7 linked regions of the Homo sapiens genome follow. The protein of the gene in region 3 purifies or fractionates together with the protein of the main gene of each other region. This does not show direct contact. Each region holds a gene or a part of one and is shown on either strand. Other genes may lie near its edges. The genes, in order: DDX27, CALML5, OASL, HP1BP3, ZC3HAV1, RPF2 and ZNF326.

Region 1 (4,379 bases), on a different chromosome or scaffold from region 3:
CAGCCACCCCTAACTGGACTTTCTGCTTCTCTCTTTGCCTCCCTCAACTCTTGTCCATACAGTTGCCAGAGAACTCCCTTTTTTTTTTTTTTTTTTTTGAGACGGAGTCTCACTCTGTCGCCCAGGCTGGAGTGCAGTGGCACAATCTCGGCTCACTGCAACCTCCACCTCCCGGGTTCACGCCATTCTCCTGCCTCAGCCTCCCCAGCAGCTGGGACTACAGGCACACGCTGCCACGCCCTGCTAATTTTTTGTATTTTTAGTAGAGATGGGGTTTCACCGTGTTAGCCAGGATGGTCTCGATCTCCTGACCTCGTGATCCGCCCGCCTCAGCCTCCCAAAGTGCTGGGACTACAGGCGTGAGCCACCGCGCCCGGCCGAGAACTCTCTTAAGCAATGAGTTCCATCGTGTCCCTCCTCTTCTTCTCTGAGTCCTTCAGTACTTCCCAGTCTCACTCTTCTTAGAAGCCTGAGTCCTTATATTGACCTACAAGGCTCTGCCCCTTCTGGCCCTCTCTGACGACACCTCCTGGCACTCGTTCTGCTCTGGCCACACTGGCCTCCTTGCTGGCCCTCAAATAGGTTAGGCCTCCTCTTCCTCAGGGCCCTTGCACTTTCTGTTCCCTCTGCCTGGAAAACTCTTCCAGAAATCTTTTGGGGTGCTCTCTAGCTTCCTTCAGGGTTCAACTCAGTATCCCTTGCTCAGTGAGACCTTCCCTGGCAGCCCTACCGTGAATAGCACTCCCCCTGCTGCCCGTCTGGCCGCTGCATTGTTTTCCGCAGCATCTCTCCATATGACATGTGTTTGTTTTTTGGTCTGTTTCTACCAGACTGTAAGATTCCTGAGGGCAGGGTTTTTATTTCTTTTATTTACTGCTGTGTCCTCAGTGTCTAGAGCACCACCTCACACATAGTAGGCGTTCAGTGAATGTTTGTGGAACGAATGATTGGTGGGGATTGGTGTGGTCCCCACTTGTCTGGAAACCTGCCCTGTTTGTGTTGTGCTGAGACTTCCCCCGCTCAACCCTGTCTGACCCAGTTCTTTTTTCCTCAGGCCATTACAGCCATGGGCTTCAAGCAGCCCACCCCGATCCAGAAGGCGTGCATACCTGTGGGTCTATTGGGGAAGGACATCTGTGCCTGTGCAGCCACTGGGACAGGTGAAAAGGATAGGGACCCAGGGTGGGCAGAAGGGTGTTACGGCCAGGGCTGGGCTCTAGGTTGACTTACCAAAGGCTGGTTTGCTAAATAAATATTCTTGGTTTTTTGAACTATTTCATTTTTATTTTTTATTTTGTAGAGATAGGGGTCTCACTTTGTTGTCCAGGCTGGTCTTGAATTCCTAGGTTCAGGTTCAAGCGATCGATTTTCCCATCTTGGCCTCCCAAAGTTCTGGGATTACAGGCATGAGCCACTGTGCCTGGCCATAAAATTTTTGTAACACAAAAAAGATATACTGGTGCAATTGAGAGAGTAAAGGACTTTTTTTTTTTTTTTTTTTTTTTGAGACGGAGTCTCGCTCTGTCGCCCAGGCTGGAGTGCAGTGGCGGGATCTCGGCTCACTGCAAGCTCCGCCTCCCGGGTTCACGCCATTCTCCTGCCTCAGCCTCCCAAGTAGCTGGGACTACAGGCGCCCGCCACTACGCCCGGCTAATTTTTTGTATTTTTAGTAGAGACGGGGTTTCACCGTTTTAGCCGGGATGGTCTTGATCTCCTGACCTCGTGATCCGCCCGCCTTGGCCTCCCAAAGTGCTGGGATTACAGGCGTGAGCCACCGCGCCCGGCCGAGAGTAAAGGACTTTTAAATTTTTAACCACTTTATTTTGAAGTATTTGTAGATCAGTGGCAAGTTGCAAAAATAGTGCATAGGGTCTCTCGAATCCTTCATCAATGGTGACATCCCACATAACTGTAGGACAAAATCAAAACCAGGAAATTGGCACTGATACAACAGTGTTTCCTAGACTGCAGAGCTTACTCAGTTTACTGAAGGATTAATTTTTTGTTTTGAGATGGAGTCTCACTCTGTCACCCAGGCTGGAGTGCGGTGGCGCAATCTCGGCTCACTGCAACCTCTGCCTCCTGTGTTCAGGTGATTCTCCTGCCTCAGCCTCCCCAGTAGCTGGGTTTACAGGTGCCCGCCACCACACCCGGCTGATTTTTGTATTTTTAGTAGAGAGAGGGTTTCACCATGTTGGCCAGGCTGGTCTCGAATTCCTGACCTCAAGTGATACACCTGCCTCAGCCTCTCAAGAGTGCTGGGATTTACAGGTGTGAGCCACCGTGCCTGGCATACTGAAGGATTAATTTTGTAAGATAAACAGTGCATGAGAGGATGTCCGGTCTAGTAGTGGGCCACAAGTTTCAAAGGGTCTGATGAAGGTCATTTTCATTTAATCCTCTTGGGGTATCCCTGATCTCTGTGACCATGGCCTCCTGGCCCTGCCATATCAGAGGAGGAAATTTTTTTTTTTTTTTTTTTTGAGACAGAGTCTCGCTCTGTTGCCCAGGCTGGAGTGCAGTGGCGCAATCTTGGCTCACTGCAACCTCCGCCTCCCGGGTTCAAGCGATTCTCCTGCCTCAGCCTCCTGAGTAGCTGGGATTACAGATACACGCCACCATGCCCGGCTAATTTTTGTATTTTTAGTAGAGACAGGGTTTTACTATCTTGGCCAGGCTGGTCTTGAACCCCTGACCTCATGATCCACCTGCCTCAGCCTCCCAAAGTGCTGGGATTACAGGCATGAGCCACTGTGCCTGGCTGTATTTTTTCTTTTTTTTTTTGAGACAGAGTTTTGCTGTTGTCACCCAGGCTAGAGTGCAGTGGTGCGTTCTCAGCTCACTGCAACCTCTGCCTTCAAGTGAATCTCCTTCCTCAGCCTCCTGAGTAGCTGGGATTACAGGTGCCCACCACCAAGCCTGGCTAATTTTTATATATTTAGTAGAGACAGGATTTCACCATATTGGCCAGGCTGGTCTCGAACTCCTGACCTCAGGTGATTCGCCTGCCTTGGCCTCACAAAGTGCTGGGATTACAGGCTCCCGCCACCATGCCCAGCTAAGTTTTTTGTATTTTTAGTAGAATTGGGGCTTCACTATGTTGGCCAGGCTGGTCTTGAACTCCTGACCTCAGGTGATCCGCCTGCCTCGGCGTCCCAAAGTGCTGGGATTACATATGTGAGCCTGACCATGTGATTTGAAAGCAGAAAAAATATTCTATGAAAAATAAGTTCCTTTATTTTCCCCAACCAGACGTAGTTTTTCTGTGCTCTGGTGAAAACCTAACCCTGGAGGGAGCTAAACTTCTTCTCATTGCTTCCTTGCTGTCCCTCCCTCCAGGTAAAACTGCCGCCTTTGCCCTGCCTGTTTTGGAGCGTCTGATTTATAAACCCCGCCAGGCTCCAGTCACCCGCGTGCTGGTGCTAGTGCCCACCCGAGAGCTGGGCATCCAGGTGCACTCTGTCACCAGACAGCTGGCCCAGTTCTGCAACATCACCACCTGCCTGGCTGTGGGTGAGTTTCTGGCCAAGGGCTGCCAGCCCCTGAGAGACTGTGGTGGGGTGGAGGATGGATGTGCCCCGCCATCTGTTGGTGTTGGTGACAGGTGCCAGGAGAGGCCTTTGTGTTGATTGAATCCACTTAAAAACTGGAAGACTTTTTTTTTTTTTTTTTTTTTTGAGACGGAGGAGTCTCGCTCTGTCGCCCAGGCTGGAGTGCAGTGGCGCAATCTTGGCTCACTGCAAGCTCCGCCTCCCGGGTTCACGCCATTCTCCTGCCTCAGCCTCCCCAGTAGCTGGGACTACCGCCACCACGCCTGGCTAATTTTTTGTATTTTTAGTAGAGACAGGTTTTCACCGTGTTAGCCAGGATAGTCTCGATCTCCTGACCTCGTGATCCGCCTGCCTTGGCCTCCCAAAGTGCTGGAATTACAGGCATGAGCCACCGCACCCAGCCGACATGTTTTCATAGTGCTTTAGGTGGGTGGGATTTGATTGAGACTTAACCAACCTTCACAAATGAAACCTGAAAACTATGAACATTTTTTTCGTGGTACTGAACAAATTTGGGGTATAATTTCTGCTCTGTGAGAATAATGAATCAAATATTACTTTGGGCAGCGTTTTTCCAATGAAGTTATATGATAGTGTTATCTAGCCTGCATTTTGCCCTCCTTGTGCTATTGGAAGTCAGAAGTGATCTTTGTCTCCCTGTAACAGACACCTCATCACTTTCCTCAGCTGCTTCTCTTAGTCCTTGAATGTTTCAGGCATTCTCTTTTTTTTTTTTTTTTGAGAGGAAGTCTCACTCTGTTGCCCAGGTGGGAATGCAATGGCATGATCTTGGCTCACTGCAACCTCCACCTCCTGGGTTCAAGTGAT
Region 2 (3,419 bases), on a different chromosome or scaffold from region 3:
CACATGCAGCTCAGGGAGCAGCTGCCACACTAGGGCTGGCTGGGGCATCTTCCCTCCTCTCACTGCTCTGCCTGGTTTGCCCCTTGTGTGGTCCTGGGGGACTGAGCTGTGGGTCATGGAGTGCGTGGTTGGGCACCCCAGCCTCCGGCTTCCCTTGGAGAATGTGTGCAGCACCAAGGGGCTGGGAGGTGTTTGTCTGGCTGCACTTTAGGGAAGGAGAGGGCACTTGGTCTATTTGATGGGCTGAACAGGAGGGAGGTGGAATGTATAAACTTTCCCAGGGGAATAAAGGAGTTTGTTCCCTGTGTACGGGCAGGGGCTGGGGAGAAGAATGGGAATCTATGGAGATCAGAGGGGACTTGCTTGGGAAAGGCATTTTGGGGACTCCAAGGCAAATGTCCCCTCACAACTGTAGATCACATCAGTGGAAGGACTTGGGGATGGTCCCCCGAAAGCTTAGCTGTTGCTCTAAAAGTTGGTCAAGGCAAGTGGCCCTGGGGGTTTCCTTCCAGAGAACAGATCAGATTGAGGACCCCAGTAGGCTCCCAGATGGGTCTCTGTGCTTAGGGCTGATGCTTAGTAAAACCACAAGGAGGGCCAAGTTTGATGGCAGCCACCTGTTCTGCATCCTCCTGCACCTCTGCCTGCACCTTTGGGGTATGCTGGGCACTGAGGTCCCCCGTGTCTCGCTGCAGCAAAACTCCAGCTGTAACTGTTTGACGCCCTGTGAATGGAACGCCTGCCACTGAGCTCCCAGGGTGTCTGCACAGGGAACCTTGGACTTGGCGATGGAATTGAATTGTAGGAATCCCTGAGCTAGAAGGGAGTATTCTGGGGAGACAAAAAGTCTTTCCCTCTCCTCTGAAACTGCACGTCACATGTTCACTTGATAAACACCATCTCAGCACCAGCTATGGCTCTGAAGGCAGCCCTGGTCCCTTGCTTCCTTGAAGTTATAGGCAGTGAGCCCCATCCTCTGTCTCTAGACCCTGGCCTGGGAATCTCATGATACCCACAGTTGTGCCCTGGCAGAATCAACACTACCACCCACTTCCCTTCCACCAGCCCCAGCCTCAGGGCAAGAGCTAGGCAGTAGCACTGGAGAGAGGGGTACGGAAACACCAAACACTGGGGCCTGCTGTGCCCTTGAGGGAGCCCTCTTCAAGCCACCTCCCCCTCCAGTCTCAGTCTTTGTGAAGTTGCAGAAGCTGTCTTGAACCCCTTGGCTTGGTCAGGATCTCCGAGAATCAGCTGCAGGGGAAACTATCCCTTGGGCAGAATGTTCCTGGAGGGAGGTGGTTGCTATCAAGGCCAGGCGGGGTTGGCAGGCTAGCCATCCGATACCCCGACCCCATGGCAGTTCCCACCTGGCACCTGACAGCTCTCCCAACTCCCATTCCTGCATTTCCTGTCTGCAGCTGATCTGGCCCTCCCTGGGAGGAGGCTCTCACCCCAGGGCATTTGGAGGGTGGGGAGCCTCCCTCCTCCCTTTGTTCCGATTGCAGAAAAGGAGGGGGTTCCCATGCCAAGGCAGAACTGTCTGGGACAGACGCTGCCCGGATCCCTGCGGCTGCCTGCACTCTGGACCACGAGCTCTGAGAGCAGCAGGTTGAGGGCCGGTGGGCAGCAGCTCGGAGGCTCCGCGAGGTGCAGGAGACGCAGGCATGGCCGGTGAGCTGACTCCTGAGGAGGAGGCCCAGTACAAAAAGGCTTTCTCCGCGGTTGACACGGATGGAAACGGCACCATCAATGCCCAGGAGCTGGGCGCGGCGCTGAAGGCCACGGGCAAGAACCTCTCGGAGGCCCAGCTAAGGAAACTCATCTCCGAGGTTGACAGCGACGGCGACGGCGAAATCAGCTTCCAGGAGTTCCTGACGGCGGCGAAGAAGGCCAGGGCCGGCCTGGAGGACCTGCAGGTCGCCTTCCGCGCCTTCGACCAGGATGGCGACGGCCACATCACCGTGGACGAGCTCAGGCGGGCCATGGCGGGGCTGGGGCAGCCGCTGCCGCAGGAGGAGCTGGACGCCATGATCCGCGAGGCCGACGTGGACCAGGACGGGCGGGTGAACTACGAGGAGTTCGCGAGGATGCTCGCCCAGGAGTGAGGCTCCCCGCCTGTGTCCCCCTGGCTGCGCTCTGAGCCTTCAGGGCCACCGCCCGCTGCTGCTTTTGTGCTGGGACTCTCCGGGGAAACCTGGTCGGTGGATGGGAAACTGCCTCCCCCTGGGAGGAAGGCTTTGCGCTCCGGGGCCTGGATGCGGCGCCCTCGGGCCGCCTGCGAGCCCCTCTCTGCCTCCAGACCTTGGGCAGAAGGAGGCCTCCTTGGGCCTGGTCCCCCTTTGCCCTGCAGTGGAATGAGGGCCCCTCAGCCCCGCATTGATCTAAATAAAGGACTGCCGAGTTCCATGTGTGCTTGGTGTTTGTGGGGCGGCTGCCTCCGAGGGCCCCCACCTGCTTCCAGGGTTCCTTCCAGCCCACCCCTCTCACCTGCGGTGGCAGAACTGCCTGGAGCAGGCCCCAGGGGCAGCTCCTGCCTCCCCTGACGCGGAGCAGAGGGCAGGTGGGCAGAGGATGTGTGAGGATGGTGCTGGGCGGTGTCTGTGGCTCCAGGTTCTGCCTGAGCTGCTGGTGAGGACCTGGGCACGTGTCCCGCACAAACAGGAGCGGGCGCCTCGCATGGACAGACGGAGCCCAGCTGCCAGCCTCTGCACGCAGCCTGCCTCTCTTCGGCTGCAAATAATATACGTGTACGTCTGTGTGTGCATCTGTGTGTGTGTCTGTGTGTCTGTATGCGTGTCTCTGTATGTGTGCATCTGTGTGTAAGTCTCTGTATGTTTGTGTGTCTGTGTGTCCTTGTGTGCATCTGCATGTGTATGTGTGTATCTGTGTGTGTGTCTGAGTGTGTCTCTGTGTCTATGTGTCTGTGTGTGTCCATTTGTGTGTGTGTCTTATCTGTGTGTCTGTGTCTGTGTGTGGCTTTGTGTGTGTATCTGTGTGTGTGTGTCTCTGTGTCTATGTGTCTGTGTGTGTTTATCTGTGTGTGTCTGTGTCTGTGTGTGTGTCTGTGTATGTGTTTGTGTGTGTCTGTGTGCCTATCTGTGTGTGTGTGTCTCTGTGTCTATGTGTCTGTGTGTGTTTATCTGTGTGTGTCTGTGTGTGTCTGTGTATGTGTTTGTGTGTGTCTGTGTGCCTATCTGTGTGTCTGTGTGTCTGTGTGTTGTGTGTGTCTGTGTCTGTATATGTGTTTATGTCTGTGCATATGTGTCTGTGTCTGTGTATGTGTATATGTGTGTCTGTGTGTGGCTCTGTGTGTGTATCTGTGTGTCTAGGTATGTCTGTGTGTTCGTGTATGTGCCTGTGTATGTATCTGTGTGTATCTGTGTGTCTGTATATCTGTGTCTGTGTGTGTGTGTCTAGGT
Region 3 (4,515 bases):
CACCCATGGGCTGGAAAATATACGCCTCTGGATTTTTCCTGAATATAAAAGCCATTGTAGGCTGGGGGCAGTGGCGCACGCCTGTAATCACAGCACTTTGAGGGGCTGAGGCGGGTGGATCCCTTGAGCCCAACAGTTCAAGACCAGCCTAGGCAACATGGTGAAACCCCGTCTCTACTAAAAATACAAAACTTGGCCAGGTGCGGTGGCTCACATCTGTAATCCCAGCACTTTGGGAGGCCGAGGTGGGCAGATCACGAGGTCAAGAGATCGAAACCATCCTGGCCAACATGGTAAAACCTCATCTCTACTAAAAATACAAAAATTAGCTGGGTGTGGTGGCATGTGCCTGTAGTCCCAGCTACTAGGGAGGCTGAGGCAGGAGAATCGCTTGAACCTGGGAGGCGGAGGTTGCAGTGAGCCAAGATCGTGCCACTGCACTCTAGCCTGGCAACAGAGTGAGATTCCATCTGAAAAAAAAAAAAAAAAAAAAGAACAAAACTTAGCCAGATGTGGTGGCACGCACCTGTGGTCCCAGCTACTCAGGAAACTGAGGCGGGAGGATCGCTTCAGCTTGGGAGGTCAAGGCGCAGTGAGTTAAGATTGCACCACTGCACTGCAGCCTGAGGTGACAGGGCAAGGCCCTGTCTCAAAAAACAAAACAAACACACACAACATTGTGCAAATATTTTTTATCTTGGCTAGTCAGAAAACTTGGCAATGCCAGGCTTATATTTCTTTTTCTTTTTCTTTTTTTGTTTTCCTTTTGAGACAGAGTCTCCCTTTGTTGCCCAGGCTGGAGTGCAGTGGTGCGATCTCAGCTCACTGCAACCTCCACCTCCTGTGTTCAAGAGATTCTCCCACTTCAGCCTTCCGAGTAGCTGGGACTACAGGCATACGCCACCACACCCGGCTAATTTTTGCATTTTTTGGTAGAGATAGGTTTTGCCATGTTGGCCAGGCTGGTCTCAAACTCCTGACCTCAAGTGATCTGCCCGCCTTGGCCTCCCAAAGTGCTGGGAATACAGGCGTGAGCCACTGCACCCAGCCAAGGCTTATATTTCTTCTGGAAAGAATCAGCTAGAGGCCTGACCCTCGCCAGCATTTTCCAGGTGCTCTCCAGCCACCTGGGGCTCTCAGGCCCTGGAGTGTAGCCTCTGGAGGTGGTGAGAACACAGACTCTGGAGTCTGACCAACCTCACTTCACATATCTGCCCTGCTCCTTACTACCTATGTGATTGGTGTTCAGTAAATTACCTAACCCTGCTCAGTTTCCTCATCAATAACATGGGGGTAACAGTAGAACCAACCAACTAATAGAGATGCTCTGAGAATAAAATGCATTAAGGGTATGGAAGGTGCTCAGCATACAGCCTGGAAAGTGCTTACCACTCCCTAAACATTTGCTGCTGCCGCTGCTGCTGCTACTATTGTAAAGATAAGGACAGATGAAGGGAACATTTGCACATCAGACAAAGAAGTGTGGACTTAACACCTCTCCTTCTCCCTCTCCCTTCCAGAGGGCACGAGACATCCACTTGACAGTGGAGCAGAGGGGTTACCCAGATTTCAACCTCATCGTGAACCCTTATGAGCCCATAAGGAAGGTTAAAGAGAAAATCCGGAGGACCAGGGGCTACTCTGGCCTGCAGCGTCTGTCCTTCCAGGTTCCTGGCAGTGAGAGGCAGCTTCTCAGCAGCAGGTGCTCCTTAGCCAAATATGGGATCTTCTCCCACACTCACATCTATCTGCTGGAGACCATCCCCTCCGAGATCCAGGTCTTCGTGAAGAATCCTGATGGTGGGAGCTACGCCTATGCCATCAACCCCAACAGCTTCATCCTGGGTCTGAAGCAGCAGATTGAAGACCAGCAGGGGCTTCCTAAAAAGCAGCAGCAGCTGGAATTCCAAGGCCAAGTCCTGCAGGACTGGTTGGGTCTGGGGATCTATGGCATCCAAGACAGTGACACTCTCATCCTCTCGAAGAAGAAAGGAGAGGCTCTGTTTCCAGCCAGTTAGTTTTCTCTGGGAGACTTCTCTGTACATTTCTGCCATGTACTCCAGAACTCATCCTGTCAATCACTCTGTCCCATTGTCTACTGGGAAGGTCCCAGGTCTTCACCAGTTTTACAATGAGTTATCCCAGGCCAGACGTGGTAGCTCACACCTGTAATCCCAGAACTTTGGGAGGCCGAGGTGGGAGGAGCGCTTGAGCCGAGGAGTTCAAGACCAGCCTGGGTATCACAGGGAGACCCCGTCTCTACAAAATAAAAAAATAATTCACTGGGTGTGGTTGTGCACATTTGTAGTCTCAGGCACTCAAGAAGCTGAGGCAGAAGAATCACTTGAGCCCAGGAGGCTGAAGCTGCAGTGAGCTGTGATCACACCGCTACACTCCTGCCCAGGCCACAGAGCAAGACCCTGTGTCTAAAAACTAAAACATAAAAATAAGTAAATCCGTTTAAAAAAAGGATTATCCCAGCCCTGCCAGGGGGAGGATGAGGAGGGGTGTGAGGACTAAATATACAAATAAATAGTGTGGTCACATGACGCACAGCAACAGAATTCGGACCCACAGCCTTCTGCAGCAATCAACCCCAAACCATCAGGACTTGGGCGATAACTGGCAGCATCTCTAACTCCCCACCCTACTCCCATCCTGCTTCCTATTTATGACCAACCCAAGAAACCCAAATAAGCTCCCCAGACCAATCACATGGTTAGCCCCACTTCTGGTGAGTGCACTTCCAGCTTCCCCATACCAACAGCCTCAATCACGGCATCCCTGAAGCCTTCCCATTTTCCTGCCTGTCTTTAAATCTCTGTCAAAAGCGAGAGATGGGTGGCTGGTTCCTTTGCTATAGCAAGTTGGGAATAAATCGCCTTTGTTAGTTCTCATTTGGGGGCTGTTTATTTCCACAGGGCCTAATGCTGTCCTAATGGTTATTGCTTGATCATTTGAGCTTCTCAACTCTAAGAAATGAGGACTGGGGAAACTGAGGCAAAAAGAGACAAAGAATGGGAGATTGAGGATGATGCAGTGTAAAAAAAAATCACCTCAACTCCTAAAACCCATACACAAACAGTACATAATAGTCAGGAAACTGTAGGAAAGTAATAGCATCTTTATTATCAAAGGACGTCATGTGATCAGGTTTACTCCAAGCAATAAAAAGTTTCCTTTTGCCCCCCTGTTTTGCCTAGTTTTCTGGTGGGCTACTCTCCTACCATAGCATAGAAAATGCACACTGCAATTGGTTATCAACAGCCTCTGGTCAATTTAGCAATCATAATCTGTGTATCTCCCACCTCTGTTTGCCTTCAGGGACAGAAAAAGTGCCTCCTTTCCAGGAGGTAGACAGGCTGTTCCAGTCCCCATCTTTGTGTCCTTCATAATGCCCAGCACAGCCCACATTGTAGGTGGTGGGAAAATTCTTGTTTAAAATAAAAAAAAGAATGAAAAATGCAATGTCTTAGTCCATCTGGGCTGCTAAAACAAAATACCATACACTGGATGGCTCATGAACAATAACCATTTATTTCTTACAGCTCTGGAGGCTGGGAAGTCCAAGTCAAGACACTGGCAGATTTGGTGTCTGGTGAGGACCTCTTCCTGATTCACAGATGGCAGCTTCTCACTAAGTCTTCACATGGTAGAAGAGGCAAAGGTGTCTCTAGGATCGCTTCTTTTTTTTTTTTTTTTTTTTTTTGAGATGGAGTCTCGCTCTGTCACCCAGGCTAGAGTGCATTGGCATGATCTCAGCTCCCTGCAACCTCTGCCTCCGAGGTTCAAGCGATTCTCCTGCCTCAGCCTCCCGAGTAGCTGGGACTACAGGCACCTACCACTGTGCCCAGCTAATTTTTTTTTTATTTTTAGTAGAGACGGGGTTTCACCATCTTGGCCAGGCTAGTCTCGAACTCCTGACCTTGTGATCCACCTGTCTTGGCCTCCCACAGTGCTGGGATTACAGTTGTGAGCCACCATGCCTGGCCTCTGGGGTCTCTTTTATGAAGGCATTGATCCAGTTCATGAGGGCTCAGGACCCATTATGTAATTGAAAGATTCTCCGTGGGGCCTGAAAGCTTAAGAGAATGAATGACCCCTCCCTCCCCTCCCTCCTTGGGCCCGGTCCCAAGGCGCAAGGCCACTCGCGCCAGCAGCATGTGTCAGCAAGATAGCAGAAGCGGGAAGAGAGCGGGCCAGAAGACACCTACCCCCTGAAGACCGAGAGAGACGTCATCCGGGTACAATGTAGCGGTTACAACAGACTGAGAAACTTCCTGTTTACAGGAGACTACAAAACCCCTGCCCCGTCCTCATTTGGTGCTGACGCCATTTTAAGCCTCAGCCCACCTGCACACACACTGCCTCATGTTGTCTGTTGGCCACGCTCTTGGGGTTCGAACCAACACAAGACCCTTTCACTAATTACTTCCCAGAGGTCCCACCTCCTAATACCATCACCTTGGGAGTAAGGACTTTTTGGAAATTATCAGTATCAAAATGGAGTCACTT
Region 4 (3,500 bases), on a different chromosome or scaffold from region 3:
ACCTTTTTAATTCATTTATAGTACCCAGTTTTTAAAGAAGATTTATTTTGTAAAATTTTGCTTATGGTACATGTCATCTTAGCCTGTAAATAAATTAAAGCATTAATTTTTATCCCTCCCTGGTCTTTTCCTCCTTCTGACTTTATACGTCTTTCTAGAGAGCTTATCTTCTATAATAACAATTCTTTGTTTTAAAGTGAGAAAGATCAGTCTAAAGAAAAGGAGAAGAAAGTGAAAAAAACAATTCCTTCCTGGGCTACCCTTTCTGCCAGCCAGCTAGCCAGGGCCCAGAAACAAACACCGATGGCTTCTTCCCCACGTCCCAAGATGGATGCAATCTTAACTGAGGCCATTAAGGCAAGTTTTTATTTCAAGCAATTCATCTTAGATTTATTATGTTCATTTTTTTCTTATTTGAAAATGGCATATATCTGTCTAGACATCATAAATCTTGTTCTGCTTCCTAAAGGAGTTTTAAAGAGAGGAAAGTCATTATAAGTTCATGTTTTTCTAATATAATCACATTTGGTGAACACTGTTAATTTTTTTAAAAAAATTATATTTAATATAGCAAATATTTTAACTTTAGAATTTTTAAATGCAGTTTATCGATTAAGTACAGTTTTTATTTGAAGGCTGAAAATGTTAATTCATTGAACAAACATTTAAGGACTACCTTCCTCTGTTGGGCGCCCCTGCTAGTGGTGAATTAACTAAGGCTAGCAAAGTCCTTGCCCTTATAAATCTAATTGTGACTCAGTAACTGAAAAATATTGAGAATTTTTGTTTAAAAAATATCTCTAGGTTCATTTCTAAAGCTAAGTGATCTTGGTAGTGGTTATCTTTCACACCTGAACCCTGTTAATAAACACTGCTTTATTACCTAGACATTCCAAAATGCTTACAAAAATTATCCTCCTTACATAGATTTATGATTTCATTGACTTTCATTAGATGTAGTTTTCCTATTTTAATTTTTAAAGGTTATCTTCTAATTTGACATTGCCTTTATTGTATAAGTCTTTTCATTTAATTTTGCCTTGTTTAGTTCATATGATCAGATGATAAGAGGAGTTAGAACAGACCCATCTTTCAGGGACCCTGTTGTTAGGATCTGAGGCAGGACTGGGGAGACAGGGATACAGATGATTTTAACCAGAAAAGGGGGGATGTGTACGAAAAGGAGCAGCCTGGTTGTCATTCTCAGAATATGAGAAGATAGCACTAACACATAAACTGGAAAAAGGGTTTGCCTTCAGACTTCTCCCTTTACTCCTTCAAGACTTCTTATGCTCTCACCTCATTAAGAAAACTTTATTGGTCTAGATTACCTCACTGTAGTGAAATCTCTGTTCTTTGTATAGCCTTTCTTCAAGGATTTCACTTGATGACCACTCAGCCTGGGTTTGAAGGAGCAGCATCATAGTGAGGATGGAAAAAGGGCTGAAACTTTAAAATAGTGAAATAAAAAATTAAAACAATATCAATTTGGCTTAAAGAATGGTTTGAATATAATTGTGCATATTTATGGAGATGATTGATTTTATATAGATAATGTGTATTCCATGCAATATGACAAATTATTGTTTCAGACCATGGATACCATTTTCTGTATTGAACAGGAATCATGATGTCTACTACCATCTCACTGTCGGATTGGTGGAGCAAAAGATTATTTGTTTCAGCATTAGTGTTCTTTTCTGCTTGATTTTCTTTGCTCTGTGTTTTCTTTTAAGATCAGGAGTAAACCTCAGTAGGTCATTAATAGTTCAGAGACATAGACTTGAATTACATGACCCATATTAATACAACTTGTTTCGTGTTGTGCAATCTTTTCTGGACCATCTACCTGTGAGTTATTTTTCTTTGTTGTCAAAATGTATAAAAACATTCAACGAAGTTCTTATCCAATGAGAATGAATAAGTGCTACATTGATTTAATAGACACTGTGGCAGTACAAAATTGATGGACTAGCTCATTAGATAAATGACAGATGCTACTTTTGTGTGTTTCAAAATTTAAAGTATTTGATTTCAAGTCAGTGACCAGTTGGAAAACAAAATTTTAAGCATTTGAAAAAAATTAAGTATTTGCTGCCTTTGTGACATAATGAGCTACTTAATTCTTCCAGGTGCATTAGTCAAATGGAGTATAAGTAAAATAGGATGGAAATGGAAGAGGGCACATTAAATTCAAATAGAACACCTTCACTATTACCCAAAACTCTCCTTCAGCACTTTGCCATCTGTAAACCCATTTTTATGCCACTTATTCAGATTATCTTTGATTCTTCTTTCTGCTGACATTCATACAGAGCCTTCAGGGAAATGTCCTGGCATGCTCATTCCTTAAGCTCGTGCCTTAAAATGGGACAGATCTGTGATCCTGTAAGTGATAGGTTTGTTCTGCTTTTCTCATTTTGATGCCAAAGATTCATCTTCTAAATACAGAATGGAATTAAAATGGAAAGAGGTTCTTCATTATACATAGAATGTTGTTCGTGTTCAGTATGGTCTCTTAGGCTGTTTTGAACAATTTAAAATTGTAGTAGAAATATTTAGTAATTCTGTTACTTCTCTGTAGTCATTATGAACTGAAGTCTTCTGAAGTTCATTCTTCCCTACCGTTTTTGTCATCTATCATCAAATTCACTTCCAAAATAATTTATTTTGAAAATATATGTCAGGCTCTATCTAATAAAAAAAAACAACTAGTTTAATAAATCTTTTCTAGGCATGCTTCCAGAAGAGTGGTGCATCAGTGGTTGCTATTCGAAAATACATCATCCATAAGTATCCTTCTCTGGAGCTGGAGAGAAGGGGTTATCTCCTTAAACAAGCACTGAAAAGAGAATTAAATAGAGGAGTCATCAAACAGGTATTACACAATTGTTAGTAGTAAGATCATTTCATTGTGTATTAGCTTTAAGTCTACAGTTAGTAACATTTAGGCTTTTTGTGCCTTTTTTGTTAAAAATAAGTTTCATGATGATGAAATTCCTTAAGTTTAACCTAGTTGAATTATCTGAGGCTAGGTTTCGAAAATGCTGGTGCCATTAAGATAGTGTAACTTTTTTCTAGCTTACTTTGCTCTTAATTGGATATTTTTTGGGGGGCTGCTTGTGCTTGAAATCATGTAGCACTGAACATGAAAAAGAGGTAAGGAATCCTACTACTGAAACAGCAAAAATGAGGCTAGGGATGGTGGCCTACACCTGTAGTCCCAGCACCTTGGGAGGCTTAGTTGGGAGGATCACTTGAGCCCAGGAGTTCGAGACCAGCCTGGGCAACATAGCAAGACCCCTTCTCTACAAAAAATACAAAATCAGCAGGGTTTGGTGACACATGCCTCTAGTCCCAGGTACTTGGAAGGCAGAGGCAGGAGGACCGCTTGAGCCTGGGAGGTTGAGGCTATTGTGAGTTACGATCTCACCACTCCAGCCTCGGTGAGAGTGAGACCCTGTCTGAAAACAAAAAGGAATAACAGAAATAATAATTGC
Region 5 (4,379 bases), on a different chromosome or scaffold from region 3:
GGGGGTATATAATCAGAAGTAGAATTGCTGGATCATATGGTAATTCTATGTTTAATTTTTGGAGGAACGATCATACCATTTTTTGTAGCAGCTGTGCCATTTTTCATTTCTGCCAGCAGTGCACATGGGTTCAAATTTCTCACATCCTCTATCATTTTGTGTTTTCTGATTTTTTTTTTTAATAATAGCCATCCTAAGGAGTATGAAGTGCTATTACTTTTTTTTTTCTTTCCTGTTTTGAGACAGAGTCTCACTCTGTCACCCAGGCTGGAGTTCAGTGGTGCGACCTCGGCTCACTGCAATGGCCGGCCGCCTCCTGGGTTCAAGTGATTCTTCTGCTTCAGTCTCCCAAGTAGCTGGGATTACAGGTGCCTGCCACCACTCCCAGCTAATTTTTGTATTTTTAGTAGAGACGGGTTTTCATCATGTTGGCCAGGCTGGTCTTGAACTCCTGACCTCAAGTGATCCACCCACCTTAGCCTCCCAAAGTGCTGGGATTACAGGCGTAAGCCACCATGCCCAGCCAAGTGCTGCTATTTCTGAAGCATTTTCATATTATATAATGGCATTCATTTTTAATGTCTTTATGAAGTGGATGTAGGAAAGATGAATTTTATGAAGCAGATAGAATACATGATTCTAGGATTCTGTGCAAATTAATGAACAATTAAACCTCCTTATATTTGGGAAATGGTTTATCATTTACAAGGGACTTTCATCCCAAATAAATATTTCATCATTGTTCCTCACAGTGAAACCACAAAGAAAGGTAGATATGTCATTTTTTAGCCTTACTTAAGAGGGTAAAGAAACTGAGGCTCAGAAATAGTAAGCAATGTTTATTGCAAGCAGCCTCAGCTCATTTTTAGAAGAATGAAGGATAATGTAATGAAGAAATAAAAGGTAACATTTTCAAGGCCTCACATCACTAGAAAGTAGCAGAGTGCATGTTCTGATCCCATATCTAATGCTTTTTCTCTCTCACTACAGTTCCCTCTGAACAGAGGAATGTCTGGAGGGATGGGTTTTGGTGGTAGCTTCTCAATGTAAACTTATTGTGAATGAGAAAGATCTGTATATATTTTCACTTCCAGTTAATCTCCTGAGTTAAGCCTTTTCTTGACAGGAGGAGGGTGTTTGCTTTTACTACATAACTACTGCCCCCTGGGTTTGGAAGAGAAAAAAAATGTCTCTTCTACCCCTTCCCCACACAAAAAAGCACAATTCACACACACACACGAGCACACATGCACACCTCACATTCACACACCACACGTGCACATGTGCCTCAAACACAGACATGCACATCTTCCACATGTACCCCCGGCACACAAACACACCCCACATAAACATCACGTGCATGCACGCCACACACACTCCACACGCGCTCACAAACACACCCTAACTCCTTCCTTCCTCCCTGCTTCCAGAAGGGTGTGACCTATCAAGTTTCTAGAGGAAGGCCAATTCCCTGCAGGCCACACTGCTTTGTCGATGTTGACTTCTGATATACTTTGGCCTTATGGAGTGAGATGAAGAAAACTGGAAAAATTTCCAGCTTAAACAAAGTCAGGCCTTTAGACTGTGGTTTCATTTTCTGTTGGTTTCTTTGAGCATTGTGAATCTGTCAATAGCCAGGTACACCCGTATCACGATATGGGCAAAATCGAATGCTTTCTGGAAAATCTTCTCTGATTTGCCCTAATCTATCTCTCCATTGACCCCAGTGATGAACGTTGACTCAGGACCAGGAGATAGTGGACAGCCCCACCTAAAAGTTTTGGGGTTTGGGGGCTACTTTGAGTCCCAGAAGAGAGCCGGGGACTGTCATCCTAGAGCTGATCCTCACTGTCATCCTAGGCCATGGAATGACGTGCTCTGCCGTGCAGGCAGAATGTCAAGATTCTTTCATCAGCTGACACAGTTGGTGAGCACCTGTAGTCTCAGCTACTCAGGAGGCTCAGGTGGGAGGATCGCTGGAGCCCAGGAGTTCGAGCTTGCAGTGAGCTGTGGTCGGGCCACTGCATTCCAGCCTGGGCAACAGAGCAACACTCCATCTCTTAAAACAAAAACAAAAACAAAAAAAACCGTCAGTGTCAAACCACCCATCTTCAAGATTTTTACACATCAGATTACGCCAAGTAATTTGATAGCACTTGGATAGCAAAGCTACAAAAGTGAAGAGGAGGAAGGGTGGTAGGAACTCAGTCACATTAACTCCAATGTTCATTATTTTGTTTCATTTTGGCTTTTTTTCCCCTTAGCTCCTTCTTCACATCGTAGAAACATGGCATATAGGGCTAGAAGCAAGAGTAGAGATCGGTTCTTTCAGGGCAGCCAAGAATTTCTTGCGTCTGCTTCAGCGTCTGCTGAGAGGTCCTGCACACCTAGTCCAGATCAGATCAGCCACAGGGCTTCCCTGGAGGACGCGCCTGTGGACGATCTCACCCGCAAGTTCACGTATCTGGGGAGTCAGGATCGCGCTCGGCCTCCCTCAGGCTCGTCCAAGGCTACTGATCTTGGAGGAACAAGTCAGGCCGGGACAAGCCAGAGGTTTTTAGAGAACGGCAGTCAAGAGGACCTCTTGCATGGAAATCCAGGCAGCACTTACCTTGCTTCCAATTCAACATCAGCCCCCAACTGGAAGAGCCTCACATCCTGGACGAATGACCAAGGCGCCAGGAGAAAGACTGTGTTTTCTCCCACGCTACCTGCCGCCCGCTCTTCTCTTGGCTCTCTGCAAACACCTGAAGCTGTGACCACCAGAAAGGGCACAGGCTTGCTTTCCTCAGACTACAGGATCATCAATGGCAAAAGTGGAACTCAGGACATCCAGCCTGGCCCTCTTTTTAATAATAATGCTGATGGAGTGGCCACAGATATAACTTCTACCAGATCCTTAAATTACAAAAGCACTAGCAGCGGTCACAGAGAAATATCATCACCTAGGATTCAGGATGCTGGACCTGCTTCCCGAGATGTCCAGGCCACTGGCAGAATCGCAGATGATGCTGACCCAAGAGTAGCACTTGTTAACGGTAAATACAAAGGGAAGACACTTTGGGCTAGTACATTTGTTCATGATATACCAAATGGCTCTAGTCAAGTAGTGGATAAAACTACTGATGTAGAAAAAACTGGTGCCACTGGTTTTGGCTTAACAATGGCAGTCAAGGCAGAAAAAGATATGTTACGTACTGGAAGTCAGAGTCTGAGGAACCTGGTCCCCACCACACCTGGGGAATCCACTGCCCCTGCACAAGTCAGCACTCTGCCTCAGTCACCTGCTGCCCTTTCCTCAAGCAACAGAGCTGCAGTCTGGGGGGCCCAAGGGCAGAACTGCACCCAGGTTCCTGTTTCCTCTGCCAGCGAGCTCACAAGGAAGACAACAGGCTCTGCTCAGTGTAAGTCACTGAAGGACAAAGGGGCCTCTGTGTCTTGAGTCTGCAGCAGAGTGGCTATGGCTGGTGGTTTTTCCTTGGATGTTCCCCAGTTCTTAAAGGGTAGAGAGTTAGAGGGTTTTGGTTATGGGGTGGTCTGGTGAGGAGATTGACTAGTGAAGACAGGGAAGGGCCAACCAGTAGAACCACAGGGAATAAACTGCCACATTTATTGACAATAGGAATATTTCAACTATGATTTAAGAAATAAACATAGCTTTCACAGGACTCTGAGGTCCACATTTTTGTTTTATGGAGGGGCTGTCTAGATGCTCATGGGCAAAACATAAATCATAGGAATTTTCTTGAACATGGCCCCCATTTCAGATATTCTTTCCCATTGTGAGACCAAGTGCTTTGATTTTTGGTTTAAACATTAAGATCAGCATACATGCATCCTTTTTTGTTTCATAGATTCTTTATCTGATGTCACAAGTACCACATCTTCTAGGGTGGATGATCATGACTCAGAGGAAATTTGTCTTGACCATCTGTGTAAGGGTTGTCCGCTTAATGGTGAGTAACCTAAGGACTTTTCTGTAAGCTTCCACCTTTTGGCCATTGTAAATAACACTGCTATGAACATGGGTGTGCAAATGCCTTCTGAAAACCCTGCTTTCAATTCTTTTGGATATATACCCAGAAGTGGAGTTGGGGGATCATATAGTACTTCTATGTTTAATTTTTTTTTTTGAGGAACTATTATTCATAGTGGCTATACCATTTTTCTTTCCCACCAGCAATGCACAAGCGTTCAAATTTCTCCACATCCTCACCAACACTTGTTCTTTTTGTGTGTGTTTGTTTGCCTTTTTTGTTTGTTTGTTTTGAGACGGAGTCTCACTCTGTCACCCAGGATGGAGTGCAGTGGTGTAATCTCAGCTCACTGCAACCTCTGCCCCCTGGGTTCAAGTGATTCTCCTGCCTCAGCCTCCCAGG
Region 6 (4,379 bases), on a different chromosome or scaffold from region 3:
TATTTGTGGATAGGTAGAACTAGGAAAAAAATGAAGAACATTGAATAATAGGCATTTTTTAAAGAGCTGTGTTTAACCTCTGGCTAGTATTCTAATTGTCATCATTATTACTGTTTCTAAGTTTTCTGATCTCCACGCAACATTATTTCAATCTGTCAGCCTTTCGTGATAGAATTTATTTTTTCTGTTTTTGTCTACTACTTTTTTTTTTTTTTTTTCTGAGACAGGGTCTCACTCTATCACCAGAGCTGGAGTGCAGTGGTGCAATCACGGTTCACCACAGCCTCGAATTCCTGAGCTCGGGTGATCCTCCCGCCTTAGCCTCCCAAGTAGCTGGGACTGCAGGCATGCACCACTATGCCTGGCTAATTTTTGCAGTTTTTTGTAGAGACAGGGTTTTGCCATGTTGCCCAGGCTGGTCTCGAACTCCTGGGCTTGAGTGATCTGCCTTGTCCTCCCAAAGTGTTGGGATTACAGGCGTGAGCCACTGCACCTGGAATTGTTTCCCTAGAGAGAGACTGGACTAAGTCGAGTTTAAAGAAATGAAGGAAATTGTTTAAGTTGGATAGACTATTGACAGGGCATAGAAACTTTTAAATAGGAAAGTCTAGTCCAAGAATATTAAGCTTACATTTCAAGTTACTGTAAGTGATGAAAAGGGAGCCAGGCAGAAGCCCTCAGAATAAGATTGAGGCCCCAGAGCAATCTTGGAGAGTGACTGTTATGATGCTTTATTTTTATTTCTGCTTTTCAGAATGTGTTTTGTTTTGAAAGCTATAAATTTTGTTTTACAGTATGCACTGAAAAAACCATACGGTGTACTATATAAAAAGTAAGTCATGATTTCTTTTACTGTATTTTAAATGATTTTGTTTCATTATAAAAGTAACCACTTTATGGAAGATTTGGAAAACAAAAACTTTTTAAAAAGATATTAAAATTCCTTACAGTTATTAATATTTTAATTTCTTTCTTTTGGTCTGTTTTTTTCATTTGTATTGAATGTCCTTGCATAGTTGTAACCATAGCATATATATTTTATTTTGAAATACAGATTTACAGAAAAGTGCAAAAATAATGCAGAATTCCCATATACCCTTCACCTGGCTTCCCCTAATGTTACATCTTGCATAACCGTAATGCAATGATCAAAACTAATAAATTAACACCGATTCACTCATGTTAATCAAATGACAGACATATTTGATTAGCACCAGTTTTTCTTTTTTCCTTCTTTTGAGACGGAGTCCTGTTGTCGCCCGGCTGGAGTGCAGTGGCATGATCTCTGCTCACTACAACCTCTAACTCTGGGTTCAAGCAATTCTTCTGCCTTGGCCTCCCATGTAGCTAGGATTATAGGCACGTGCCACCACGCCTGGCTAATTTTTGTGTGGTTTTTTTTTTTTTTTTTGAGACGGAGTCTAGCTTTGTTGCCAGGCTGGAGTGCAGTGGCATGATCTCGCCTCGCTGCAACCTCTGACTCCCTGGTTCAAGTGATTCTCCTGCCTCAGCCTCCTGAGTTGGGATTACAGGCATGCACCTCCATGCCCAGCTCATTTTTGTATTTTTAATAGAGACAGGGTTTCACCATGTTGGCCAGGCTGGTCTTAAACTTCTGACTTTAGGTGATCTGCGCGCCTTGGCCTCCCGAAGTGATGGGATTACAGGCGTGAGCCACCCCGCCCGGCCCAGTTTCTTTTTTCTTTCTTTTCTTTTTTTTTTAAGACGGAGTTTCACTCTTGTTGCCCAGGCTGGAGTGCAGTGGCATGATCTAAGGTCACTGCAACACCTGCCTCCTGGGTTCAAGCAATTCTCTTGCCTCAACCTCCCGAGTAACTGGGATTACGGGCATGCGCCACCACGCCCGGCTAATTTTGTATTTTTAGTAGAGACGGGATTTCTCCATGTTGGTCAGGCTGGTCTCGAACTCCCGACCTCAGGTGACCTGCCCACCTCGGCCTCCCAAAGTGCTGGGATTACAGGCGTGAGCCACCGTGCCCGGCCCTAGTTTTCCTTTTAATACTCTTTTTCTCTTCAGGATCCCATGTTGCATTTAGTTTTCATGCCTCCTTAGTCTTCTCCAATTTGTGACAGTTCCTTAGTCTTTCATTGTCTTTGATGACCTTGACATTTTTGACAAGTACTTGTCAGTTATTTTGTAAATTATCCCTCAATTTGGGTTTAAATTTTCTCATGAATTGATTGAGGTTATGCATGTTTGTCAAGAACACTACAAAAATGTTGTGCTTTCCTCATATATTCTTCTGGATTATAATCCAGTGTTCTTAATTTTGTTGCTTAAATTGTTCTGTTTGGCAATTGGGAACCCCCCCCCCCCCCACCTTTTCTTTTGTTTGTTTTTTTAGTATGAGACGGAGTCTCACTCTTTCACCCAGCCTGGAGTGCAGTGGTGCGACCTCAGCTCACCACAACCTCTGGCTCCTGGGTTCAAGCGATTCTCCTGCCTCAGCCTCCTGAGTAGCTGGGATTACAGGTGCCCAGCTAATTTTTGTATTTTTAGTAGAGACAGGGTTTCACCATGTTGGCCAGGCTGGTCTCAGACTCCTGACCTCAGGTGATCCACCAGCTTCAGCCTCTCAAAGTGCTGGGATTACAGGCGTGAGCCACTGCTCCCAGCTGGGAACTCTTTTACGTTGGTTCCTATGACCTTTCAACATGCCTCCTGTTTTTGAGCACTTCCTTACTTTCTAACATCACAAAATTATCTGGGTTCATCTTGTCTTTTTCCTTACCACAGCCCTGGAATAAGCTACAGTCATCCCTCAGTATCTGTGGGCGATGGGTTCCAGAAACCTCCCCTTATTAAAATCTGGGTATGCTCGTCTCTTACATAAAATGGCCTAGTATTTGCATATAACCCACACACTTCCTCCTGTATCCTTTTTTTAAAAAATGCTTCCCATAAAAGTAAGTTGCATATACTTTAAATCATCTCTCGATTACTTATAATATCTAATATAATGTAAATGCTATGTAAATAGTTATAATGCTGTATTTTCTGGTTTATCCTGCTTTTTATTGTTCCTTTTTCTTTTTATTTCTTAACTTTTTTTTTAGAGACGGGGTCTCACTGTTACCCAGGCTGGAGTGCAGTGGCACGATCATATTTCACTGTTGTAAGCCACTGTGCTCGGCGCCCCCTGCTTTTTTTTTTTTTTTTAACACACTTTCTTTGTCTATTGAATACTGTCAATCCGTGGTTGGTCAAATCAATCCATGGATGCAGAAGGATGCAGAATCCATATGTACAGAGGACTACTTATTTTCCACGAGCCTATAAACTCCATGAAAGCAAGCATCTTGTTTAATGTAGTAGTATAGTATCACTAGCTCCTAGAATGGTAGCCTGGCATATAACAGGCACTGAATAAATATTTGAATGAATGAATATCCTTTCAATTGTTTTATCATCTGAATATAAAATTACCTTAATATATTAATTGTATATACTTATTTAGATTATTAAAATTGTCACTTTTTTGATATTCTTAGGAAAAATATTACAAGACCTTTTGAGGATCAGACATCACTGGTAAGTATAATAATCTTTATGATTTAAGAAAGCATATAAGTAGTAATTATTCAGACTAATTCATTTGTACTCCAAATTTGTGATTTTTTTAAACATTAGAAGTCATCCTGTGTGAGGGAATTTTGTGTAAAATGGAGAGGAAATACTTTAAAAAATATCTATAGAGCTTTCATTTCACTATGGCTGGGAAATGTGTTTTTCATTGCCTGCAAATATATTGATAAAATTTTTAAAACTTGGCCGGGCGCGGTGGCTCACGCCTGTAATCCTAGCACTTTGGGAGGCCAAGGCAGGTGGATCACCTGAGATTGGGAGTTCAAGACCAGCCTGACCAACATGGAGAAACCCCGTCTCTACTAAAAATACAAAAAAAATTAGCCGGGCGTGATGGCACATGCCTGTAATCCCAGCTACTAAGGCGGCTGAGGCAGGATAGTCACTTGACCCCGGGAGGCAGAGGTTTCAGTGAGCCGAGATCACGCCATTGCACTCCAGCCTGGGCAACAAGGGTGAAACTCCGGCTCAAAAAAAAAAATATTTAAAACTTGAGTTGCATTTAAAGGACATAATGAATTTTCAAAAGGAAGTTTGTTATAGATCTATTTTTATAAAGCAAGTTTGAGTTTTAAAAATATGACTCTTCCTTCAGATGTTTTTACTTTTTTTTTTTTTTTGAAGCTTGGGTCTTGGTATGTTGCCCAGGCTGGTCTCAAACTCCTGAGCTCAAGCAATCCTCCTGCCTCAGTCTCCCAAGTAGATGGGACTACAGGTGTACACCATCACACACAATTGGATACTTTTAAAACAAGGAACACTACCTGAATTA
Region 7 (3,803 bases), on a different chromosome or scaffold from region 3:
AGTTGTAGAGACAGCTCTGAGATGGGGTGTCTGTAGTGTGCTAAGCCAGATTTTTGAAGGACTAGATAGTTATTCTGGTCTCTGACTCAGAGCTGCTGGTCCACAGAATTCCTCTAAGCTAAAGCTGTAACACAATTTGATGTTTGCCAAATAAGGTGAGACTCACAGAGTATATGTGCAGAGCATATAATGCAGAGCATACAAATAGGGGCCATCGAAGTGTGGCAATGCCCTAGGTATATTGTGATTACCACAAGGAGCTTTATTCCTCATACTTAGAAAACAAGCACACAAAGAAAAATCTGCCAGCTGTCTATTTCCCAATTTTCCTTCTGACTGTTCCTTTCTCCTTCCTCACACAATTAAAATGCTAGGTTTCCTGTAATCGCAATCTTCAGGGAATTTTTCACTCAAGCCCAGAAAATAAACTCCAGATAATGATACTGAGAAATTTATTGGTTGGAAAACTGCTATCTACAGGCCTTCCACTACCTATTTCTTAGTAGATTTTACATTTTTAAAGGGTTGTAGAACACCAAAACAATATATGACAGATACTGTGTTTGGGCCTTAAAGCCTACCCTTTATATAAAAAGTTTGTTGACTCCTAGGCTCTCATTTGCAAGTAGACAAATGAGAAACAGCAAATATTTAAGGAAAAGAGCAACATGAAAAATACACAGCAAACTTAACAAGCAGAAAGAATTCCTGGGGAAACAATTCAGGGGGAAAAAATGACCAAGTATAATTAGTATTATATGGAATAATAATTACTACTACTTATAATAGTTTCATATGTAATCCTCATCATATTATATGTCATAATCTTCAAATATTTTAGAGGTTATTGTACTAATTTTAAAAATGCAAGTTGCTATAAAGAAGTATCTTGGAAATAAACAGTTGTGAAAATAAACTCTGTTTTAGGCTGATTAGTTGAATAAACATGGCTGAGAATCAAATTACTGAGCTAGAATTTTGAGCTGAAGATACTTCCAGAGCTTACAAGAAAAGATAAAAAAGATGGAAGTTACAGTAAAAGACATAGATGTATCTCTTAAAGACATAGAAAACCCAGAACACCATCTGTTTAAAAATTAAACTTCATGAGATTAAGAGCCATATGTATAGAGAATTCACCATTGAATACCCTGCATATATCACAGTGCCAGGTAAATACTATGCAATAAATATTTTTGAATGTATGTATGTATGTTACAGTATAAATATATAGAGGAGTTCCAGAAAGTGAAAAAAGAAGTGAAGAATAGGAAAAAAAAAAAAATCTTCTGATGAAAGATTCATATTAGAAGTCTCCAGTGCTGAGCAAAAACAATGAAAAAGTCATGCAGGATGAATACTGACAAAATATGTGTAATCCCAAGCTTAGAAAAATCTCAAAATGTCTAAAGAGAAACAGTGTACCTATAAGGGGAAAAGAATCACATTGGTCTCAGACTTGTCATCTGTTCGTTGGAGTGCTACAACATACTGCTATTTTTGAAGTTCTGAGGGAGAACTGTTTTGAATTTAGACTTCTATCTTGAGTGAAACTGTCAAGAGTAAGGGCACAGCAAGGACATTCTACCAATTTTAGAACATGCAAGGATTTCAGAAATTAACTCATAAAACACAACCTGCACGGCATGGTATCAAATTATGTAAAGAAAAACTTGGTAAACAAGAAATTGTCAAATTTATAATCATAGCTACGTATTTGAACACAGCGCTTAGAAATTGTCAGATAAAGAGTTCAAAATAGAGGAAACATTTTGAATTATATAGTGCACAAATTTTAATAGCTATAGAATATTTGTTTTCAAATGCCATGAAAAAATGACCATGAAGCAAAAACCACAATATTTTTTTGTTTGTTGATAGGTAGGAATTCAGGGTCCATCCTGTCATCACAATGCAATGAAACAAAAAATTAGCAAGTGGATAGCAATAAATCAATTTTTAAAAATCAGACAAAAGAAAACACTGTCCTTGTAATGCTTGCATTTAAAAGGAAATAAAAACTTATGAAAGAGAATCTTTATTTTATTTAAGCAGTTCTAGATTATACAAAATGTTGAAACATCTCAATTTGGTCTCTGAGGCTAGCATAATCCTTATTCCAGAAAATTGTTCATCAAAGATAGCTATAGACCAGTCTCACTTACGAACAAATGTAATTTGTTGAAACTGGTCATGTTGAAAAAACATGACCAATTAAATATCCCAAAATAATGTGTCATGGTAGAGTAGGGTTTATCTGAAAACTGCAACATGACGATTATGTAACTCAATCCTTTAGGAAATTTATTACTTTAACTTAAAAAAAAATACCATAAGCTTGATAGATGCTCGAAAAACATTTCCTAAGATTGAACACATTCCAGATTTAAATTTTTCAGGCTGAGAATAGAATAAAGCCTTTGTAACTTGGCTAAGGACTAGGAAGGTCTTCCAGAAAGCTTCATCAAACATCTGCATTCAAGTCAGGATTAAGACAATAATGACTGTTGCCTATGCAACAATCATTTAACCCTAAGAAATAGAAGTATTAGGAAGAGAAAACATAGTCCTTATTTTGAGCAGTGTGATTGTAGAGACAAACATCCAAGAGAAACAGTTGAAAAACTATTAGAAATGACAAAAGGTAGTTTTGTTTAATAGTTCACCATGAAAATCTGTACTATATAGAAAATCTGTATATAGAATATAGCATTGGCCAATTGGAAATGTAATTTGAAAATCCCATTTGCAGCAAAACTTGGAACTGTATACTGTCTAAGAATAAACAATGGGAAAAATGCAAAATCCTTATGAGGAAAATGATACATTTTAATGGAGGAAATAAAATGCCTGAATAAACACTGTGTTCCTGTCTGAAAAATATTGTCTGTATGCCAGTTATCTTCAGATAATTCATAAATTACCATTCCAATTGTTACTTAGAGTTAGTAGTGGTGGCGAGAGAAAGTTAAAAATACCAGCTTCAGGAATATTGAAGTGTCTTTCTCATATATATAAGTTCAGATAGACAAGGCAGGGCTGGTGTCACCCTTCAAGGTGTCAGAGACTGAGGCTCCCTCTATCTTGTTACTTTGCTGTCTTTAAAACCTTATCTTTGGCCGGGCGTGGTGGCTCATGCCTGTAATCCCAGCACTTTGGGAGGCCAAGGCGGGCAGATCATGAGATCAGGACATCGAGACCATTCTGGCTAACACGGTGAAACCCCGTCTCTACTAAAAATACAAAAAATTAGCTGGGCGTGGTGGCGGGCGCCTGTAGTCCCAGCTACTCGGGAGGCTGAGGTAGAATGGTGTGAACCCGGGAGGCAGAGCTTGCAGTGAGCCGAGATCATGCCACTGCACTCCAGACTGGGCGATAGAGGGAGACACCATCTCAAAGCAAACAAACAAGCAAACAAACAAACCTTATGTTCAGTCATCCTGTGTATATTCCAGCCAATGGAGAGGGAGAAAAGGACTGTTCCCAGAAATTGTACCTACTTTTCTACATGAATCTCATTGCTTAAAGCAGCCACATGAATACAACTAGCTTCCAGGATGGGAATTGTGTTTATTCTATATGGCCATGTTCCTAGGCAAAAAAGCAGGGTTTCTATTAGAGAAAAAGGGGAGAATGGATGTTAGCATATATTAGTGTATTACTAGAAGTATATACCACTTAAGTTTATTCAGAAACTCATATGCAAAGTAAATAACCAAGAAATTTGTTTTACATGAGGAATATTTGACTTACATTTCTTACTACGAACATACAACAAAACTACAATAAGTATATCAAAGATA

Evidence for each region.
Region 1: the proteins of OASL (region 3) and DDX27 purify together in Homo sapiens (affinity purification with mass spectrometry; 2 studies listed by BioGRID and IntAct, with this or other methods). This does not show direct contact.
Region 2: the proteins of OASL (region 3) and CALML5 purify together in Homo sapiens (affinity purification with mass spectrometry; one large-scale study listed by BioGRID and IntAct). This does not show direct contact.
Region 4: the proteins of OASL (region 3) and HP1BP3 purify together in Homo sapiens (affinity purification with mass spectrometry; one large-scale study listed by BioGRID and IntAct). This does not show direct contact.
Region 5: the proteins of OASL (region 3) and ZC3HAV1 purify together in Homo sapiens (affinity purification with mass spectrometry; 2 studies listed by BioGRID and IntAct, with this or other methods). This does not show direct contact.
Region 6: the proteins of OASL (region 3) and RPF2 purify together in Homo sapiens (affinity purification with mass spectrometry; 2 studies listed by BioGRID and IntAct, with this or other methods). This does not show direct contact.
Region 7: the proteins of OASL (region 3) and ZNF326 purify together in Homo sapiens (affinity purification with mass spectrometry; one large-scale study listed by BioGRID and IntAct). This does not show direct contact.

What each region holds. Positions count from the first base shown.
Region 1 is NC_000020.11:49,225,376-49,229,754, forward strand, and holds part of DDX27 (probable ATP-dependent RNA helicase DDX27), read left to right. Parts: intron 1-1,054; coding exon 1,055-1,160; intron 1,161-3,339; coding exon 3,340-3,513; intron 3,514-4,379. UniProt on the Homo sapiens protein: Probable ATP-dependent RNA helicase. Component of the nucleolar ribosomal RNA (rRNA) processing machinery that regulates 3' end formation of ribosomal 47S rRNA.
Region 2 is NC_000010.11:5,497,684-5,501,102, reverse strand, and holds CALML5 (calmodulin-like protein 5), read left to right. Parts: upstream 1-1,532; 5' UTR 1,533-1,664; coding exon 1,665-2,105; 3' UTR 2,106-2,406; downstream 2,407-3,419. UniProt on the Homo sapiens protein: Binds calcium. May be involved in terminal differentiation of keratinocytes.
Region 3 is NC_000012.12:121,018,064-121,022,578, reverse strand, and holds the end of OASL (2'-5'-oligoadenylate synthase-like protein), read left to right. Parts: intron 1-1,520; coding exon 1,521-2,018; 3' UTR 2,019-3,468; downstream 3,469-4,515.
Region 4 is NC_000001.11:20,770,308-20,773,807, reverse strand, and holds part of HP1BP3 (heterochromatin protein 1-binding protein 3), read left to right. Parts: intron 1-197; coding exon 198-357; intron 358-2,734; coding exon 2,735-2,878; intron 2,879-3,500. UniProt on the Homo sapiens protein: Component of heterochromatin that maintains heterochromatin integrity during G1/S progression and regulates the duration of G1 phase to critically influence cell proliferative capacity.
Region 5 is NC_000007.14:139,078,129-139,082,507, reverse strand, and holds part of ZC3HAV1 (zinc finger CCCH-type antiviral protein 1), read left to right. Parts: intron 1-2,264; coding exon 2,265-3,038; coding exon of another isoform or gene 3,039-3,404; intron 3,405-3,854; coding exon 3,855-3,956; intron 3,957-4,379.
Region 6 is NC_000006.12:110,988,234-110,992,612, forward strand, and holds part of RPF2 (ribosome production factor 2 homolog), read left to right. Parts: intron 1-794; coding exon 795-832; intron 833-3,513; coding exon 3,514-3,553; intron 3,554-4,379. UniProt on the Homo sapiens protein: Involved in ribosomal large subunit assembly. May regulate the localization of the 5S RNP/5S ribonucleoprotein particle to the nucleolus.
Region 7 is NC_000001.11:90,032,673-90,036,475, forward strand, and holds the end of ZNF326 (DBIRD complex subunit ZNF326), read left to right. Parts: 3' UTR 1-2,861; downstream 2,862-3,803. UniProt on the Homo sapiens protein: Core component of the DBIRD complex, a multiprotein complex that acts at the interface between core mRNP particles and RNA polymerase II (RNAPII) and integrates transcript elongation with the regulation of alternative splicing: the DBIRD complex affects local transcript elongation rates and alternative splicing of a large set of exons embedded in (A + T)-rich DNA regions.